Homo sapiens: one gene and its partners. The protein of the gene in region 2 purifies or fractionates together with the protein of the main gene of each other region. This does not show direct contact. Each region holds a gene or a part of one and is shown on either strand. Other genes may lie near its edges.

The links.
Region 1: the proteins of NOL8 (region 2) and URB2 purify together in Homo sapiens (affinity purification with mass spectrometry; 2 studies listed by BioGRID and IntAct, with this or other methods). This does not show direct contact.
Region 3: the proteins of NOL8 (region 2) and WDR89 purify together in Homo sapiens (affinity purification with mass spectrometry; 2 studies listed by BioGRID and IntAct, with this or other methods). This does not show direct contact.

The regions. Positions count from the first base shown.
Region 1 is NC_000001.11:229,636,237-229,643,260, reverse strand, and holds part of URB2 (unhealthy ribosome biogenesis protein 2 homolog), read right to left. Parts: coding exon 5,014-7,024; intron 1-5,013. UniProt on the Homo sapiens protein: Essential for hematopietic stem cell development through the regulation of p53/TP53 pathway.
Region 2 is NC_000009.12:92,322,327-92,329,876, forward strand, and holds the start of NOL8 (nucleolar protein 8), read right to left. Parts: upstream 3,025-7,550; 5' UTR 2,980-3,024; exon of another isoform or gene 2,854-2,979; intron 1,884-2,853; 5' UTR 1,836-1,883; coding exon 1,697-1,835; intron 1,178-1,696; coding exon 1,115-1,177; intron 1,026-1,114; exon of another isoform or gene 910-1,025; intron 1-909. Other genes in the region: CENPP (centromere protein P), read left to right, coding at 3,673-3,779. UniProt on the Homo sapiens protein: Plays an essential role in the survival of diffuse-type gastric cancer cells. Acts as a nucleolar anchoring protein for DDX47. May be involved in regulation of gene expression at the post-transcriptional level or in ribosome biogenesis in cancer cells.
Region 3 is NC_000014.9:63,596,858-63,603,881, reverse strand, and holds the end of WDR89 (WD repeat-containing protein 89), read left to right. Parts: intron 1-1,574; exon of another isoform or gene 1,575-1,704; intron 1,705-1,947; exon of another isoform or gene 1,948-2,411; intron 2,412-3,908; coding exon of another isoform or gene 3,909-3,939; coding exon 3,940-5,103; 3' UTR 5,104-6,843; downstream 6,844-7,024.

The sequences.
Region 1 (7,024 bases), on a different chromosome or scaffold from region 2:
AGTGATTATTGCTTTGTGCGGTTGACCCTTGAACAATGTTTGAACTGCATGGATCCACTTATACATGGGTTTTCTTCTGCCTCTAGCACCCCTGAGACTGCAAGACCAACCCCTCCTCTTCCTCCTCCTCAACCTACTCAGTGTGAGGATGAAGAGGATGAAGACCTTGATGATAACCTACTTCACTTAATGAATGGCAAATACATTTTCCCTTCCTTGTTATTTTCTTAATAACATCTTCTTTTCTCTAGCTTACTTGATTGTAAGAATATAATACATAAATACATACACAAAATACGTGGTAATCGACTGTTTATGTTCAGCAAGGCTTTGGTCAACAGTAGGCTATCAGTAGTTTAGTTTCTAGAGAGTCAAAAGTAATACAAGATTTTTTTAATAGAATTGTATCAGAAGGATATACACGGAATTTTTTACTGTGCTGGGGGTTGGTGCCTTAACCCCTATGTTGTTCAAGGGTCAACTGTATTTTATTTCTCTATTTTCTTTGTGTTTCTTTATAAAATCGGTAGGGCTGCAAGAGTAGGTGGTATTTTAAACAGATGGGAAAGTCAGAAAGACTAAGAGAGCTCCACTTTTCAGGCCTGGATGACTGTCAGGAAGTCACCCAGCTGTTCCCCATCATCCCCAGTGTCCTTGGGCCCACGGTTTCACAATAACGCCCAAAGCCAGGGCACTCAAGGCCCTTTATCGTCTGGCCCCAGGTCATCTTTCCAGCCAGCGCTTCAGCCCCATCTGCCTATTCCACATTGCCAGAATACCTTCCTGCTTTCCTGTCTTTGCTTACTATTTACAGCACTGGGGGAAAGGGGACTTTTGAGAGGTAAAGACCTAGGTCCAAGTCTCCCACAAGCTGTAAAACCCTGGACCCATGATCTCTCTGAACCTCAACTCCCTCATCAGTGAAGTGGGCATAACAGCACCAACTCCTGTGGCTGGCAAACAAAAAAAGGCCACAGAGCTCACAACATAGTGCCCTCACATGAAAGGCTCCCATTTCCACCTGCCCTAGCTACCCTTCAAGGGCCACTCACACGTGGCCTGTATGTGGCCTCTCCACCGAGTCCCATCGCTCTGGTTCGCTTTATGGCGTCTCCCCCACCTTTACCCTGTGATTTGTGCGAATGTCTGTTTACTTAATTACATAGGCCAAAATCAACACCTCACTCATCTCCAGAGCAGGATACAGCCTCAAACATACAAGCATTTTAATTGGTTTTTTTTATGTTTCTGGAGACAGGGTCTCACTCCATCACCCAGGCTGGAGTGCAGTGGCACAATCATGGATCACTGCAGCCTCGACCTCTTGGGCTCAAGGGGTCCTCTCGCCTCAGCCTTCGGAGTAGTTGGGACCACAGGTGCATGCTACCCACACCGGCTTTTTGTAGAGATGGGGTTTTGCTTTTTCACCCAGGTTGGTCTCAAACTCCTGGCCTCAAGTGATCTCTTGGCTCAGCCTCCCTAAGTGCAGGATTACAGATGCCAGCCACCACTCCCAGCCAAGAAGCATTTTTAGAAGTGTTGATTTCTGTAATTGAATTCAGGTCCTCTGTTCTGCTGTCAGAAGGCATTCTTTACAAAAGCCCACCTCTGAGCCATCCTTAAGGACACAGGGAGAACTCCATGGCTGGGGCACCTGCACGGCGCCTCTTCACACTCCCTCTCCCTGCCCAAAGCCTTGGGCCACTCCTCACTTGGCATTTCTTCCAGAGCACTCACAACTCTGGCACTTCCCTGGACAGTATCTAACAGCTCAGGTGGAAGAGGCCTGGACACAGCAACACCCCAGGCCCATGAGCTGAGGGCACAGTGTGGCAGGCTGGCCTTGCCCAACCCTGACCACACTGTGACCGAGGTGCTCTGTCCCTGAGGAAATAAGGTACCAGCAGTCCAGGGACATACACTTAGGACTTAAAGACTGCCTCAACTTGGCCAGGCACGGTGGCTTATGCCTGTAATCCCAGCACTTTCGGAGGCTGAGGCAGGCAGACCACTTAAGGTCAGGAGTTCGAGACCAGCCTGGCCAACACGGTAAAACCCCATCTCTACTAAAAATACAACAATTAGCCGGGCATGGTGGTGCATGCCTGTAATCCAAGCTACTCAGGAGGCCGAGGCATGGGAATCGCTCAAAGCCGGGAGGCGGAGGTTGCAGTGAGCCGAGACCGGGCCACTGTACTCCAGCCTAGGTGACAGAATGAGACTCTGTCTCAAAAAAAAAAAAAAAAAAAAAGAGATTGCCTCAACTCAGTAGGGTTGAAGAGGAAAAGGAGGACACAATATTCTCTTTAGCTAAGGGGCACAGGGCAGAGCTTCAGACCACCAGCTGCCATTTCTTGGGCCAGTCACTTAGAACACTGTAATTAGGCTTAATAAAAGACTCTATTTTAGCCCCCATTAAGAAGGTGAACACCATTCGCTAAAAGAGACCCTAACACAATAAGACAGAACAATGTAATATCAAAGCCTTTCAGTTAATCCACAATCCAGCCAGAGACAGGTTACTGAAAGGGAGACAACAGCAGCGTGATTTGGCCCATGGCACTTCAGTTCTGGCACTGGCACAGGCAGACCAGATGGCTTTACTTTCTGCGAGAACCCATTTAACCCTCACGTACCGAAAGGCACGCCCGTGGCCCCACCCGTCACAGCTTCTCCACCCAGAAACACAGAGGTTAAGGTGTGCTTAACACAGACGTTAATGTGACATTAACGAGGGTCAGATTCGGCTGACTTCCAGACCTCACCTCAAAAGACTGACCTGACCCCAGCCCTTTCGTTACCACCAAAACAAAAAAGAAAAGACCCCCCACAACTGTGATGTGTGCCATCTTGAAACAAGAAATCTCTTCCATTAACTGTTTGTTTGGGAGGAGTAAAAGTGTGTTTTATTTGTATACCCTAATAAAGGTAACAAATCTTAATCATCCTTCACTGTAGAGGAAAACCTCAACAAACTCTAAATGGGCCTCCAAAAACATTATAATCTATCCCCTGCTTATGGCATATTTAATTAAATCATAGAAAAGTATTTTGATTTATTCTTATTAAAATGCAACATTAAAGTGTACAAAATAAGAAAATAGCAACAATCACAACATGTTAATGCAATAATACAATGCATGTTAATACATGCATGTTAATACAATAATTATTTTAATTTTTGGATGGGTTTCTAGCCTTTGTCTGCACGCATGTATATCTTATATAGCTGTAATTGTGGCATATTTAACATTTCATACTGTACTTTTTTTGCTTAATATTTTCTAGATATTTCTAGCCCTTGTCTTCATAATAGTTTTCATAATTATATTTTTAACGGCTGCATAGTAACCCATTAACCTTTCACCAGGGGGGCTGTAAAGGTCGACTCTGTGCAGGAAGACATGAGCTCTCTTGCTTCGAGGCTGTGTACGAGGTCCTAGTTTGCTGCTTGGAAGGCTGCCTTCAGACTAAAACACTTTGATGACATTGAAGGTTAGCCTTGGTCCAGTGAGCACTTGCACCTGGCAGCACCCTAATATGGTGGGGGGACAGGGGTGAACTAAGGAAGGCACAGTCCTGTCCTCAAGGAACTGTAAGAGGCTCTTTGGAAATTAAGTGATTTGGCTGGACATGGTGGCTCACGCCTGTAATCCCAGTACTTTGGGAGGCTGAGGTGGGCGGATAATGAGGTCAGGATATCGAGACCATCCTGGCTAACATGGTGAAACCCTGTCTTTACTAAAAAATACAAAAAAATTAGCCGGGCGTGGTGGCGGGTGCCAGTAGTCCCAGTTACTTGGGAGGCTGAGGCAGGAGAATGGCATGAACCCGGGAAGCGGAGCTTGCAGTGAGCTGAGATTGCACCACTGCACTCCATCCTGGTAGACAGAGTGAGACTCCATCTCAAAAAAAAAAAAAAAAGAAATTAAGTGATTTGTACTTTTTTTAATTTATTTTTTTATGAGACAGGATCTCACTGTGTCACCCAGGCTGGAGTACAATGGCAGGATCAAGACTCACTGCAGCACCGACCTCCCTGGGCTCAGGTGATCCTCCCACTTCAACCTCCTGAGTAGCTGGGACTACAGACGCATGCCACCATGCCTGGCCAATTTTTGTATTTTTTGTAGAGATGGGGTTTTGCCATGTTGCCTGGACTCAAGCAATCTGCCCCCTCAGCCTCCCAAAGTGCTGGGATTACTGGCGTGAGCTGCCACGCCTGGCTCTGATTTGTACTTTTTTAAAGTTGGCAGATTTTCATATCTTTTTAAAGTCAATTTATGGCACTGAAAGTCTGATACATAAGAACCTACTAAGGATGCAGGTATCTATGTATCTCATTGCAGCCAGGACAAGTTAAAGGCTAAAAAGCTGAAGAGGAGCAGATTTCAAAACTATAAACGTACACAGAGCAACCTCCAAAATCAGTGAGCAACTGAGGTGCAGAGCAACATACGGAGGAGGCTGCTGTTTGCACAGAAAGCAAGGAAACCGTTGTAGCAGTAATTGCTTATGTACGCCTAGAATGTAAATAGAGGGCATGAAGTCGTGGGTGCTGGGCCTAGAAGGGAGGTCTTCTCACTGTCCACATGTAGTACTTTTTTTTTTTTTTGAGACAGACTCTCGCTCTGTCGCCCAAGCTAGAGTGCAGTGGCGCGATCTTGGCTCACTGCAAGCTCTGCCTCCTGGGTTCACGCCATTCTCCTGCCTCAGCCTCCCGAGTAGCTGGGACTACAGGCGCCTGCCACCACACCCGGCTAATTATTTGTATTTTTTACTAGAGATGGGGTTTCTCCGTGTTAGCCAGGATGGTCTCGATCTCCTGGCCTTGTGATCCGCCCGCCTCGGCCTCCCAAAGTGCTGGGATTACAGGTGTAAGCCACCGCACCCAGCCGCACATGTGGTACCTTTTGAACACATCACGTGTTCACTTATTCCCAGTTCCAAAAAGGGGAGCAGTGGAAACCAGACCTCTATAACACAGAATTAGCTCAAGAGAAAATATCTTACCTGCAAGAACTCTTCTCACAGAATGAAACATGGAGGTAAACACGGAGTCCTTTTTGGGATGCAGTTCTGGGGCCAAAAAGAACAGAGTCAAAAACTGCAAGGCTGCCTGAAAAGACTGATCATGTCCCGCGAGAGCTGGCAACTCCAACAGTATCTGAGAGTAAACACCCTGGTAGAGGGCAACATGGGAGAGCAGCGTCCTGTCGCTTCCTTGGGAAATGTCGGCCCCTCCATCCCTGCAGTGCTGACCCAGGTCGGCTTCCAAGAGCGTGCTGACGGATGAGATGAGGACCGAGGGAAGGCGCCAGCCCCGGGCCCCCGGCACTGAGCAGAGCTGCAGCACAGCTCCTGTCTGCAGCACAACCTGCTGCAGCAGCTCAGACAGTGCTGCTGGGGCCTCTTGGCCCAGCTTCTGCTCTTTGAGGAAAGGTCCCAGGACATGGCACAACCTGGTTAAAGACACCAGAAGGAGCTGCCTGCCCTGGGGGTTCTGATTTTCTAATTGTTTGCTTGAAGCTGCCTCCGTGTATGGTTTGGAACTAGAGAGGAATGCGGTGATTTTTCTAAAATTGAGCACCAAGCTCAGCTTCATTTGGATGAGCATCTGCATTAGCTCCTCTAAGAACGTCCCTATCACTTGGAGGAATTCCAGCCAAGCGGGATCATCCATCTCAATAAGGAACCTACTACTAGCTCTGAACAATGAGGTCAGTACAACCTCAAAAATATCACTACCATACATGATCTTGAACACAGAGCGAGCACTTTTCCCCTTTTGCAAGTAACCAAGAAGTTGGTAGCAAGTCGTCAAGAACTTGAGAGCCAGTGAGGAGGAGCAAGAGCATCCTAGTTTGGTGACGGCCATGGACAGTAACACAAGAAAATAATGCACATGATAGGGTGGCAAGAGGCTGTCCAGCTGTAAGGCAGAAATCACTTCCAAAAGCCCCAGGATGCTTTCCAACTGCTCTCCCTCCAGCTGGATAGGGAAGTCACTCTTGACCAGGGACAGTAAGTTCTGGGCAATTTCTCCTCTAGGTTCTATACCTTCGGGTCCAGCTTTTGCAAATCTGTTTTCCCAATGACCCACAACCATGTGGTCCTTTTCAAAAAGCCAGGGAAGCTGCTGACTGACAAGACCTGAGTCACGCTGGGCACCAGAACACAGAATGCTGGAGCAACTTGTGGTTACGCACGTTAAGAAAGCAGAATGAAGGGACTGCATCTCTGGAAAGAGAGGGCTATGAAGGAAGGCTTTGGATATTTTTTCCAGTGTGATGTATGCCTCTTCATCTATTGAGACTTCCTGGGCTTTGCCCATGGGTAAAGTTCTCAGCAGGACACTGGCCAGGTATCCCACATCATCTGGACACAGATAGGATATTAAAATTGTGAGATTTGACACAATCAAGTGCCAGTGTGCTACAGGGTATGTGAGTCCACTCACCATCCCAACTTGGCCATCCCAGGAAGCCGTCGTTCTCTGATTCAAGCTTTTTCTGCCGGAACCAATAATAAAGGCAGCATCGCACCTCAAACTTTGGATGGCTCCTTCAGACCGGAAACTAGTTTGCATTAAAGTCCTTTTCATTTTCTGCAGGTACAGCTGTTCTAAGCAATATGTACCAAGAGAGCTGAACTGAGCTGTAAACTTCTCTATCTTCTTCCAATGCTGTGTTTTTACACCTGGGAGCAACGAAGGGAGGTTCGAGATCTCCAGAGCAACACCTATAAGGGGCCCAGACATAGAGTGATACTGGCTACAGTTCAAACTGAACATAGCGTCCACCTGGGCCCAAGTGTAAGAGAGCAGGAGCACAGAGTCACTGACCTTCTGCAGCCACAGCTCTGGCTCTGGGCCTGGGGTGTCCGGGAGAAGGGCCAGCAGGGGCTGCACGAGCTCCCTCATCATCCTCTCCATCATGCACTGTGTCCGTCTGACAATGGGCAGAGGCGTGCTGCTGTCCAGGCTCCTCATGTTGAACATGATGCAGTGCAGCAGCAAGCTCAG
Region 2 (7,550 bases):
AGAATTTTGTAGGTGGTAGATACTGTACTAAGTACAAATTTATCTTTTCTTTTTGAGACAGAGTGTCCTTCTGTCGCCCAGGCTGGAGTGCAGTGGCACTATCTTGGCTCACTGCAACCTCTGCCTCCCTGGTGATTCTCCTGTCTCAGCCTCCCAAGTAGCTGGGATTACAGGTGTCTGCCACCACACCCAGCTAATTGTGGTATTTTTAGTAAAGATGGGGTTTCACCATGTTGGCCAGGCTGGTCTCAAACTCCTGACCTCAAGTGATCCACCTGCCTTAGCCTCCCAAAGTATTGCAAATGTATCATTTAATTTAATTCTCACAGAAATATTATGAGGCAAGCACTATCTTTTGTCATTCATCACATAAGCAAACTTGGGCTGAGAAGTTTAAGTAACTTGCCACAGGTCACAAAGCCTAGTTGATGTATTCTTAACCACAACTTCACATTTATCACATATATTCCTCAATGTAAAATAGAATAAAGCAATCTTTTCGCAAATGAAATTACAAAAGACTGATTGCCCTCTTCCTCTATTAGCGTGTTCCCTTTACTTATTTTCCGTGTCTTTTTTCACTTTTTGGCCTCCAAATAACTAGAATATGTTACTGTGTCAGCGGCAGTATGGATTATCTCCCATTCTTCATTGAAGGCCACTGTTTGCCCTTGACTTTACTAAACTTATCAACAAGAGATTTCACAATTTCAAGGATACGGTCTTACAAGGGTGTATTTTAAAGCCCCCTCAAGAGTGTTTAGTGACAAGGATTAGCTGTCAAAGAAATGATCAGACTGAGGGGGAATGTGGCATGATATTCAGTGGGATATATGTAACAGGCAGTTTCTATGAAAGTTTGGTCCCTTGTCCAAAATATTTGAGAATAGCAGTTTTAAGTAAACCCACCAGTAAAGTGCTACCATGTCTGCTGATGCCAAATGGAATGGACCTAAACCTGCTGAGTTATACGATACTGGAATTCTCTTCATCACTGCTGTCCCTCTGGATAACGTGAAAAATGGCTGTGGAGGTTTAGATTTAGAACCAGTTATTCCAAGTTACAGAGTCATACAAACTGGCAAACAGTATAGAAAATATATGATGATCTTACATTTTTTCAGGTCCGCTTCTGCTACACTGATGTTGATATATGCAAAAACTTTCTGTGGGTTTCCTAAAAAACAAACAAACAAACAAACAAAACAATTTATTTAAATTCTTATCCAGAGAGCAATGTAAAAACGGTTGTTTCTAAATTAAAAAAAAAAATAGCTCTTGAAAACTTATTATTTCAAAGATAAACCTTGTTTTTTATTGGCTATAAAAATAAGCATAATTATCAAAATATTCCAAAAAAAAAAAGAAGAAAATGTCCAGTAGTCAGATAAGGAAACATTTTGATTGTATGCTAGTGATAGTCTACTTAACGGGACACTTAATCCATGTTAGAAAATTCTAGTTCTCAAAACTGGAAGTTAATATGTTTCTGAAATCAGATGTTTTAGAATTTGGAATTTTTTCTTATTTCAGAAACAAATTCTGGTCAAGTTCCACATCACACATTATACCTCCACAACATCACTTAAAACTTTTGGTGTTCAGAGCTAACATTTATCTTGGGGTTGTTTTATTTTCTAGCACTTAACCTGAGTTATGTCTGCCTATAACTGCCCAGTGAAGGACCATAAATTACCTTGGTCATCTTTCCGTGTGATGATCTCCACATCCGAAACTTCTCCAAATCTGCTGAACTGATTTTGTAGGTCTGCCTCAGAAATGTCCTGGCTAAGGCCACCCACATAAAGGCGCTTCGTTTCTCTGTTCACTTTCATGAAGGCTGGGCATATACTTGGGTGTGTTTCAGTGGGAAAAGTAATTTTCTGTATACAGAGAAGAGTTCTTTCCCTTAGTTCTTCTAAAATCTAACAAAACAACTACTTCCTCTGAACCTTCTGTATCAAATCCGTCTCCTGGATCTGTATTTCACTTCCTATTGTATTACTTCCAAATTTTAGTCTTCGAGGTTTTGCCCAAGCCCTACATCCACATCTTTCATGAATGCACTTTGGAACAGCAACCCCATACCCATATAGACACAGGTACAGACAGAGTTTTTTTCCTCCAAATGGCCATAATATTACACTCTATCCCTCTTAATTTTATGTATTCATGTTTTTAGATGTTTTTCCTTGACTCACTCATACATTCATTTACTGTCTTTAACAAAGTCTGACAGAAACAGGATGTAACGCACTAAAAGATAAAAAGAGCTAGCCTACCTCTTCCTAATTGTCTCCACCCCCAACCTACCCACCCCAGCCTTCTTCCTCCTAGAAGACCCAAAGAAGTGAATAGAGAGGCTAGGAGCTCCTTATAGTCACAAAAGAATAAAACAAATGGCACAATATTATGTCACAATAAAAGTGCTGCAAAGTGGGGTTCAGACACAAAGATCAAGGGATATAGCGAATACAGACTTGTGTTTTTGCTATGTGCCTGCATTGTACAAAGTAGTTTGCATGTTTCCCATTTTTCAGGAGAGCAGAAGAGGTTAAGTCACTTCCTCAATGCCATACCGAAAATTAGTGAATCCAGGATTATAATGCAGGTCTACCTTCAGAACTTGGAATTCTTAACACTATACTATGAAGGTTGCTGTATCACAGGGGACTCAGGAAAACTTTTCCAGAGGTACTAGGGCCCATCATAGTATCTCTCATTTCGTTTAGCACCCGGCAGGCGCTCAGCTCTCGCCCTTCCCTTCCCCAAGAGCTGACAGACTCTTTCCAGAAGAGACTCCCAACCAGCGTCCACCACATGGCGTGTATTCTGGGCAGAACTTCGGCCTACCTCTTCCCGATAGTCTCCGCCCCCAGCCTACCCACGGCAGCCTTCTTTCTCTGAGAAGACCCAAAGAAGTGAAGAGAGACTAGGAAACGGCCCTGTGACTTCTCATGCCCGAAACCCACTCCTCACCACGTCGTTCACCTAAAGCCAGCGCCGCTGCAGCCCCTAACTTCTGGTCACGTGTCCCAACGGAGCATCCTCTCTTCCTTCCTACTCGATTTCCAACCCAGCCTCCTAAGGTTCCGTTACCACAATTCAGTTCCCAAGAGCTTTTAATTTCCTTTTCCGTCCTCCCACCTTCCCTGACGCCTCCGTCACCTCCCCCTCAACGACTGCAAAAGAGCCTAAACCAAAATCCCCTAGTTTCTATTGAACACTATCGCTGTGTGTACCAATTCCTGGACTAGGTCGGCGTAAGAGAGGAAGTAGGTGAAAAAAATAAAGAGGCGCTCCCCTCCACGTGATCCCAGCCCTGCCTCTTTAGTGAGGCACGCGGCCGGGCGGCTCCAAGGCTGCCGGCTAGGGTGAGCAGCGGAGCGCTTGGGCTTGGAGTAGCAAAGAACGCGCTCTCCAGAGAAAGTATAGCCACTGCTTAGACAGCCAGGGAAACGTGTGCGGGGAAGTGGAGGACTCAGGCTCTCGTGCGAGAGCGGAGTTGGACGTGCAGGGCCGCTGGGGTCACGCGGAGCTCTCCCGCCTCCCCTCCGCGTGAGCTCTGGGATGGTCCGCGCCGGGAGCGCGCGCGAGGCTTGAAGCGCGGGTGAAGCGCGCAGGTCGGAGTGACAGCTGCGCTGCCGGCCCGGCTGCGGTCAGCAACGCGCCATGGACGCAGAGCTGGCAGAGGTGCGCGCCTTGCAAGCTGAGATCGCGGCCCTGCGGCGAGCGTGTGAGGACCCACCGGCGCCCTGGGAAGAGAAGTCCCGAGTCCAGTACGTGACCACCCCAAGTCCCCCAGGGCCCGCTGGCCAGGGTTCCCGGGCCAGGCGGGTGAATCTCCACAGACATCCTCGGTCTCCTACTCCCAGCCCTAGAAAGTGGGCATGAACTGGCATTGATCCTGTCATGACGATGGCCTAGAGTTGGGAGCAGCGCGTACGGCGCCCAGCTGTAAACGCATTGCAGGGTATTAACTCGTTTAATCGCAGTCGTCTGTGTGGATGACTGACAAGGAGGAAGTCTTGACTATATCCCTAGCTAGATAATTCCGCCTCCAGTATGCAGAAGTATCTCTAGTTGGGATTTAATAACTCCGTTTGGTTTCATGGCATTTGTTTTGGTAGGTCAGCTAACCATCTCAACTGATAATGACTTTGTGTTTACGATGACATAAAAATTCCTTTGAAAAATAACTTCGGTAAAAAACTAAGTTGATAAAAGAAAAGTAGTTAATATAGACTGCAGGAGAATTTGACATTCCTCTGAGGTAGGTGCTACTGTTAGCCCTGTTTTATAGTTGAAGAAACTGAGGCTCAGAGAAGTTAGGTAGCTTGTCCAAGGTTCCAGAGAAAGGAATTGTCAGAGATGGATTGGGACCCAAAAATTTTACTCCAAAGTCTGGGCACTTTTGGTTTATTGAAGGAGAGGGAGAGAAAAGCTCTGCAACCGTAATTATGTATTATCATCTCAAACATAGAAGCCTCTCGAAAACATAAACTGTCTTCAATTTTTGAGTCAAGAGTAATTTGACATAGGTGCAGAAAGAATGGGATTTTTCCTGAGCTAACTGGAGAAGAATTGGTAGAAAATGGGAAGGAGGAGATCTACAGAAAATGTCTGCGTGCGGTCATGAAAGTAGAGGAAGCTGTGACTGGTTAAAGGGAGAGGAAAAAGGTGTGCTCCTCCACAAATGAGAGTAAATGTATTAAAGACCCTTGCTATTTGAGGTGTGCTCCACAGATGGGACGCTTTAGCATTACCTGGCGGTTTGTTAGAGCGACATCCTGACCTACTGAATCAGAATCTGCATTTTAAAAAAATACACTGCCCTAACAGAGGATTTGTGTGCACACTTGGAAGTTTAAGAACCAGGGAAAAATAGTTTCTTTACTGGCCACAAGATTTCATTAGTCCCCATAGTAGTGTCAACTGAAAAATCATGAGATCTGCAAATTTAGAGAGACTATTTCTTAAAAAGGGTTACAGTCTGCAAAGTGGCCATCCTGACAGGCTAGGAAGCATAGTCTCAGGCAAAGCAGAAAGGCCCACACTTTGGAGGAGGAGGGGTTGGGGCAGGGATTTATGCTGTATGAGTGGGCTAGGTATACATATTCAACAGGTTATAGGAGGGGCTATGAATATTCACGAAGGGAGATGTGCTCACCTGTACTGAATAAAAATGCATATTACATGCACTCCATATTCATTTTGGGAAGCTGACTTAATATTTAAATGCATTACAATTAGGCCCTGTACGTCAAAAGTTGAAGGAGGGAAGCAAAGGTACTTAAGTACACAGGCCTTGTAAACCTGTTAGAACAAGTCCATGGTTGGTGATCTTATCAAAAGAAAATTTTTGAAATCATTCTCTTGTCCTATCAAAGCCTGTGGAACAGGGGAATCAGTTAGCATCTGGTGGTGGATGAACTGCAATTATTTCAATATTGCTTATCTGGAGGCCAGTGCTAGTGAAAAAAATATTGTGGCAGTTAGAACATAGTTCATTCTTTTAAAGGTAGGGGGTATGTGACTTAACCCTTGCCTGGCATGGCCTTAGGTCTTGTTTATAATTTGGTATCTTATTGCCACAGAGTCCGTTCTGCAACTCTTACGATCTCTATTTTAACATTAATGCTGGTCAGTTGTTGTGTCTACATCCCAAATAGGAAGGGGTATAACGAGGTGTGTCTGACCTCCCATCCTGTCATGGTTAAGAACTGAGTTTTTAAGGTTTCTTTGGGGTCCCCTTGACCAAGAGGGAGTCGGTTCAGGTGATTGTGGGGGTGGGGTAGGATTTTATTTTTAGTTCTTAGTAGATTATTTATATAATCTGGGACTTCTCAGTGGTTAAATTGGAAAGTCAGAAGAGTCCAGATTGTGGGAGACATTAAATGTCAGTCCAGGGTGTTTGGATTTAACCGTGAGGTTTCTTTTCACTATAGTGGAGGAGGAGGATTGGAACCTATGTACCAAGCTATTTTTTTAAGTGATTATAAGTGGTTGGATGGATTGGAGGTAGGAAAATTGGAGCTAAATTATTCAGCTATATCCATATGTCCACACTGTGGAGCCAAATTGCCTGCTTTCAAATCCTGTCTCTGCTATTGGCTGAGTGATCTTGGTTAAGTGAGCTCCCCCTTTCTGTGCTTCAGTTTCCTCCGTGGTAAAATTATACCCAAGTTTTTGGGTTGCTGTGAGGACTAATTGAGTTAATATATGTAGTTCATTTAGAAGAGTACTTGCCTCATAATAGTAACTAACACTCATTAGTAGACCATTGACCTTTAAACTCGTGTACAGATTGATTTTAAAGGAAAAAAAATTCTTGCAAGCTCCTAATTCTGACAAAAAATTTTTATGTTATGAGGACAAACTTACAAATAATAAAACCACAAAGTGAATAAAATTCAAACAAATCCAAAATAGCTCAAACTAACATCATTAGTTGAAATACACAAATATTTTGCTCAAACTAAATAACTGCTATGAATAAGAATATGCAGATTTTCTTTTTGTGGCAAAATATACATAAGATTTACTATTTTAACCATTTTTGAGCGTTCAGCTCAATGGCATTAAACACATGCACATTGTTGTACAGCCATCACCACTGTCCATCTTCAGAACTTTTTCATCACCCCTAAACTGAAACACCATACCTATTAAACACGAACTCCCTACTAGCCACTCTGACAACTGCAGGTTCTTTTTTGAGTTCTGCATATCCAGCCTTTAATGATGACTTGGTTCTCTTACCACTTTGCTCTATCGGAAATACCTTGAAATTTTCCTTCATAGTTTGCTGTGACATTTGGTGTTCACTTGTCAGAAGCTCATTTATATTTATGGCTTTTTTTTTTTTTTTTTTTGAGACGGAGTTTCGCTCTTGTCGCCCAGGCTGGAGTGTGGTGGCGCAACCTCAGCTCACTGCAACCTCCGCCCCCTGGGTTCAAGGGAGTCTCCTGCCTCAGCCTCCCGAGTAACTGGGATTACAGGCACCCGCCACCATGCCCAGCTAATTTTTTGTATTTTTACTAGAGATGGGGTTTCGCCATGTTGGGCAGTCTGGTCTCGAACTCTTGACCTCAGGTGATCTGCCCACCTCGGCATCCCAAACTTCTGGGATTACGTGAGCCACCGTGCCCGGCCGCACATCATTTATATATGAAGATTGTCTCTGTTCTTTTTTCTTTTTCTTTTTCTTTTTTGTTTTGTTTTTTGAGAGAGGGTCTCACTCTGTTGCCCATGCTGAAGTGCAGTGGCATGATTATGACTCACTGCAACCTTCACCCACCTCCCATGCTCAAGCAATCGTCCTGCCTCAGCGACCCTCCACCAGCCAAGTAGTTGGGACTGAAGGCATGGCACCTGCCACTATGCCCAGATAATTTTGTGTGTGTGTGTGTGTGTGTATTTTTTGGTAGACATGGGGTTTTACCATGTTGGCCCGACTGGTCTTGAACTCCTGGGCTGCCTCAGGATTACAGGAGTGAGTCGCTGTGCCCAATCTGTTCTTTTTTCCTTGACTTCTATATTTAATGTAA
Region 3 (7,024 bases), on a different chromosome or scaffold from region 2:
ACAGTTGTACTGTGCTAGCTACCTCAGCAGCTGTGGAGGTGACTACCCCAGCGTTACTGGAAAATGGTCATTTCATGTCTGAATACTTAAGTTGAAGGAAGAACACCATTTTTAGAGCTACCTAATGCTTCCACGGAGTTTCTCATGTGGGGCTTACAGACTGATGGGGTCCTATCAGAAGGCTTCAGAAGCTGGCTTAAAGGGTCTTAATGGCCAAGTCCAGACACTTTGAGCATCAAAAAGCAACAAAGCGATAGATTATGATACACAGTTTTTAAGAATTGTGATTTCCTAGTCAAAGAAGCAGAGAAAGGAAAAAAGCTCTTGTTTATAGAAGAATGCCTGCTAAGGTAGAAAGAATGATAGAAAAGGACTGTTTTACAGATTCTAGCATAATCATTGATTTAGGCAAGGACAATTAATAGATCCTGAACTCTTTGGATGAAAGTTGTTGAAGAATAGGATATTCAAAAAATTCCATGACATGAAAAACAGAAGGTTGGAGAGATGCTGTTATAGTGAAGTATTTAGGAATGGAGTGATACTTTGTCTGCAGCTAACTCTCATCAAAAGGTTCATTTTTAAAAAGCAGTGGGGTGTGTGTGTGTGTGTGTGTGTAGAGAGAGAAAGCAAATGTGGCAAGAAGTTAACAGTGAACCTAGAAGGTGAACTGTGTGTGTGCATTAGAACTTTTTGTGTGTGCGCACTTATAAATGTTGAAAATTAATGAGCTGTGATGCCATCTCCAAAGGAAAAATAAGTAAAAATAAATGTTGAAAATTAAAAGTTGGAGGGAATGCTTATTTCTATTTTAAACCCAAATCCAGGCTGGGCGTGGTGGCTCACGCCTGTAATCCCAGCACTTTGGGAGGCCGAGGCAGGCGGATCACGAGGTCAGGAGGTCGAGACCATCCTGGCTAACACGGTGAAACCCCATCTCCACTAAAAATACAAAAAAATAAAATAAATTTTAAAAAACCCAAATCCAACTTACTAATATTTTTTGCTGTTTGATGTAATTGTGCTATTTGGAGCTCTCTGATAGATCCAAATTCTCCCTTATATGGTGATACTGGTAATTTTTATATTACATCTTTTTTTTTTTTTTTGAGATGGAGTTTCACTCTTGTTGCCCAGGATGGAGTGCAACGGCGCGATCTCGGCTCACCGCAACCTCCTCCTCCTGGGTTCAAGCGATTCTCCTGCCTCAGCCTCCCGAGTAGCTGGGATTACAGGCATGTGCCACCACGCCTGGCTAATTTTGTATTTTTAATAGAGACGGGGTTTTTCCATGTCGGTCAGACTGGTCTCAATCTCCCGACCTCAGGTGATCTGCCCGCCTTGGCCTCCCAAAGTGCTGGGATTACAGGCGTGAGCTACCATGTCCAGCCATCTTTTTTTTTTTTTTTTTTTTTTTTTGAGTAGGAATCTCACTCTGTTGTTCAGGCTGGAGTGCAGTGGCAAGACCTTGGCTCATTGCAACCTCTACCTCAAGCAGTTCTCCTGCCTCAGCCTCCCGAGTAGCTGGATTACAGGTGTGCACCACAACACCAAACTAATTTTTGTATTTTTAGTAGAGACGGGGTTTTACCATGTTGACCAGACTGGTCTCGAACTCCTGACCTCAGTGATCGCTGCCTCGGCCTCCAGAAGTGTTGGGATTACAGGCATGAGCCACCATGCCTGACCTATTACATCTATTGTGTAGGTACTATGATATGCCATACATTGTGCAGAACACATGGCATGCATTAGTTAATCCTCCTAACAGTTCTTGAGTTAGTACTCATTTCCCCTTTTAAAGATGAAAAGACAGATGCTTAAGAAGATATCACTAAAGCAACAGAAAAAACATTTCATCTTAAGAATGAAAATGAATTTGTTAGACAGGCTAGAAAGAATATTCACTGATGAGAAAGCACAATAGAAGAATTTATTTTATTTTTTTCATTAGTTATTTAGTTTATTATAAAAGAGAAATATGGAAATTATTTACATGATGAAAGATTTCAGAACTTCGGTGGAATGGGCAGCTTCATGTTGATGCCATTTCAATAGTGACTTATTTCAGTTTACGTACTTTCCAAGAACGTCACCATCTCTAAATAGGAAATAATCCTTGTCATCTAGAACTACTTTGGTGCCTCCATGTTATGGGAGAAGAACTTTATCTCCAACTTTCACACGAACTGGTTGAATCTCTCCACCCTTTCCTTTAGAACCCGATCCAACAGCGACTACTGTTGCTTGCAATACTTTTCCTTGAGATTTTTCTGGAAGCATAATGCCTCCTTTGGTTACAGTTTCAACAGCACTCCTTTCAACCAATACTCGGTCAAAGAGTGGAAGAAACTTAAACGCTTGTCCTGCCATGACTCCCTCCACCTCAGACTCGTACTCTGCTCTAGTGTCAAGAATTTATTATAGTGTTACTAGGCATGCATGTTTTTCTGGCCTTGAACTTGTCCTACATACAGCCCACCCTGGAGAGGCAATCTAGTATGGTGGTTTAGAGCACAGTCCGTGAAGCCTGAAGCCAGAATGCCTAGGTTCAAATCCCAGTTCTACTATCACAAGCTGCTACTGCCTTAGAAGGACTTCTCCAGGATTCTATACTGGGAACCTCTGTTGTATTCGTTTCCTATTGCTGCTATAACAAATTACTGCAAACTTAGTTGTTTGAAATAACATTAAGTTTATTATCTTAACGGTTCTGGAGGTCTGAAGTCCAAAATGGATGTCACTGGGCTAAAATTAAGATGTCAACAGGGCTGCATTTCCATTTGGAGGCTTAGAGGACAATCTTTTCTTGCTTTTTAGTTTCTAGAGGCCACTCTCAGCCTCTGTCTTCAAAACCAGCAACATTGTATCTCTCTGTGTCTTTGCCTTTCTTCTATGGGAACCTCTTCCTCTGACTCTTCTGCCTCCCTCTTCCACTTTTGAAGACAGTTGTTACCATATTGGGCCACGGTGATAACAGATAATCTAGGATAATCTCCCTATTTTAAGGTTAGCCTTATATTAGGCTGATAAGCAACCTTAATTCCATGTACAACTTCAGTTTTCCTTTGTAACCTAACATATTCACAGATTCCAGGGATTAAGGCATGAATATTTTTGGGAAACCTTTTTTTTTTTTTTTTTTTTTTTTTTTTTTTTTTTTTGCCTACATATCTATGTTTAAATTCTAAAGTTGTGTAAGGCAGCTGGGGCCAGGAGAAGATTATTCCAAAGTGGAGATCCTTGCCAATCCTGAAGATGACTTGAGTAGAACCAGTAATTGGGTTTGAGCTAAAAGGAACTACTGGGTGGCGTATGTACATGTTTTTTATTCTCTTACTAGCATAAAATATATATAGTAAATTCAGCATTTTTTTTTTCTTTTTTGAGGCAGGATCTCACTTTATTCCCCAGGCTGTATGACAGTGACATGATCATGGATCACTGTAGTCTCAACTTCTGGTCTCAAGCAGTCCTCCTACCTCAGCCTCCTGAGTAGCTAGGACTACAGGCATAGGCCACCATGCCCTGCTAATTTATTTTTTGAAGAGACGGCGGGGGGGTCTCCCCATGTTGCTCAGGCTGGTCTCTAATGCCTGGCCTCAAGCAGTCCTCCTACCTCAGCCTCCCAAAGTGCTGAGATTACAGGTGTGAGCCACCACTCCTGGTAGTGAATTCAGTATTAAAGAGTGATTGAATTAGAAGGCAACTGAGTTTTAGTTACATCATAGGAAGGAAATGATTATAGTATTAGAATACATTTCTGTTGATTGATTGATTCATGCCAGCCCTCAGAGGAAAATGTTCTTGATTTAATTGCAATTTTAGAGAAACTTCAAGTTAAATTTTTTTATGTGTCTCCCTTGTTAAGCATTAATTTTTATTTTTATTATTATTATTTTTTACAGAGTTTTACTACCCTTGGATGCTGCTGTTGACATGGAAAAGATTGAGGAACAATTTGCTAATCTGCACATTGTTAAATGTTCCTTAGGAACCAAAGAGCCCACTTACCTTCTTGGTATAGACACATCAAAGACTGTCCAAGCAGGAAAGGAAAACTTGGTTGCTGTTTTATGTTCTAATGGATCAATCAGAATATATGATAAAGAAAGGTTAAATGTACTACGAGAATTTAGTGGATATCCTGGACTTCTTAATGGAGTCAGATTTGCAAATTCCTGTGACAGTGTATATTCAGCATGTACTGATGGCACTGTGAAATGCTGGGATGCTCGAGTAGCCAGAGAAAAACCTGTTCAGCTCTTCAAGGGTTACCCTTCCAATATTTTTATCAGTTTTGATATTAATTGTAATGATCATATTATTTGTGCTGGTACAGAAAAAGTTGATGATGATGCATTGTTGGTGTTTTGGGATGCAAGGATGAATTCTCAGAATTTATCTACAACTAAAGACTCACTTGGTGCATATTCAGAGACACATAGTGATGATGTCACTCAAGTACGTTTCCATCCCAGCAATCCCAACATGGTAGTCTCAGGTTCATCTGATGGCCTGGTAAATGTATTTGATATTAATATTGATAATGAGGAGGATGCACTGGTTACAACCTGTAACTCAATTTCATCAGTAAGCTGTATTGGTTGGTCTGGGAAAGGTTATAAACAGATTTACTGCATGACACATGATGAAGGATTTTATTGGTGGGATCTTAATCATCTGGACACTGATGAACCAGTTACACGTTTGAACATCCAGGATGTCAGAGAAGTAGTTAACATGAAAGAAGATGCTTTGGACTATTTGATTGGTGGCCTATATCATGAAAAGACAGACACATTGCATGTTATTGGAGGAACAAACAAAGGAAGGATTCATTTGATGAACTGCAGCATGTCAGGACTGACCCATGTGACTAGCCTTCAGGGAGGGCATGCTGCTACAGTCCGTTCTTTCTGTTGGAATGTGCAAGATGATTCTTTGTTGACTGGAGGAGAAGATGCACAGTTGTTACTTTGGAAACCTGGAGCTATAGAGAAGACCTTTACAAAGAAAGAGAGTATGAAAATAGCATCCTCTGTGCACCAACGAGTACGAGTTCATAGTAATGATTCTTATAAAAGAAGGAAAAAGCAGTGATAATGCATTTGGCACTTTGTTTGGTAGGTTTTATAGTTTCAAATAGTCCTTCTTGTTTACTACCCATGGTAGACATGTTTAAAGCTTTATGTAAAAACAAGCCAGTTAGCAAACAGTCCTGGAAAAATATGGTGAGAATGGTTTAATTCCGGTCTTCACATATTCTAAAAAATTTTAAAGCCTCTAAGTATAAAATCAGTGAGTTGAAAGTAAAATTTCTTATTTAAAGAACCCATCTGTTAATGTAGTAAATGTTGGCTTTAAAGAAATAGCTCCGATAAGGACTTTTTAGAAGGAAATACTTGGTAAAACTTAATAAAACAGGTGGTTGGCTGCATTTTTTAAGCCCAGTTTTTTACATTTTAAATTGTCTTTATTGTGTATAAAACCAGATTAGACTATATTCTTCATCTGAGGAGCATCTATATGTTTAATACACCTAATGTATTATGCTGGAGTATTTAAATGTAAGTATTTTAATGAGTAAATAGAATTAACCTTTTTTACAAATGAAATGATAGGCATCTATGTAAAGTGAGAAAAATATGTTTCGTAAATATTTGCATCTTTAATATTGTTAGTAAGTAGTAAACAGGTGTTTTGCTGATTGAAAGGAAGTTATCTTGGTAAATTGAGACTCAAAGTGAAATACAAAAATGAAAATATTTATAATAGGACTCGACTTGGAGAAATTGCTATTCTTCCTGTTGTCCAAACCATAAATCTGAGGATAACCTGGGCTTTTCTCTTTCCTCTTCTCCTAACCAGTTTTTCACCAAGTCCTGTGCCATTTCACCTCCTAACGTCTGTCAGCTATCCTTTTGCCTTTACCTCACCACTATTACCCTAGAGAAGACTTTCATTATTTCTCATCTGGATTACCAGCTCGATCTCTAATCTGCTTCAGTTCATCCTTCTTGCTACTTCTAGGCTAAACATCAAAAACAGATCTGGTAGGGGCGGGGAAATGAGGGGGAAGAAACAAAAACGTGATGGTGCCTCATGCTGCTTAAAATCTTCAGTACATTGATGTTTTGATGGCGGACTACATAAGCGTTAAAAATTGTGTTTTTCAGAATCTTTAAAATATAAGACAGTGCTATCTAGTGAATAAAAAAATTAGTTTGAAAGATATCTGGAGAAATCGCATTCATAAAACAATTGGAAGTGAAACTATTAAAACAATAGGGCTTTTTAAAATTAAAAATATTTAAAATTCAAAAGTAATTAATAGTGTTGGAAGATGTAGGTGAGAAAATATTCCTGAAAGTAGAACTGAAAGAGACAAAGAGAAAAGATGAAAGCCACAGAAGATAAATACAGGGGTCAAAACCAGACTAACAGTTTTAGAAAGTGAAAAAAGTTAAAAAAGAAATGGGGGCAGTGGGTTATTAGAAATAACATAAATGGCTGGTATGGTTTGTCTGTGTCCTCACCCAAATTTCATCTCGAATTGTAATCCCCATAATCCCCATGTGTCTAGGGAGAGACCTGGTGGGAGGTGATTGGATCATGGGGGTGGTTTCCCCTACGATGTTCTCCTGATAGTGGGTGAGTTCTCACAAGATCTGATGGTTTTATAAAGGGCTCTGCCCCTTTAACTCCTCACTCTTTCTCCTGAAGCCTTGTGAAGAAGGTGCTTTGCTTCCCCTTTGCGTTCCCCCATGATTGTAAGTTTCTTGAGGCCTCCCTGGCCATGCTGAACTCTTCAGTCAATTAAACACTTTCCTTTATAAATTACCCAGTCTTGGGCAGTTATTTATAGAGTGTGAAAATGGACTAATATAGTGGCTATTCCAGAACTTCAATCTTTAGATTGAAAGGCACAGCAGAGTGTCAAGTGTAATGAATGAAAAAGATCCACATCAAGGCATAGCACTGTGAAGTTTCAGAGTAAATAGAAAATCCTGCAAGTGTCCGG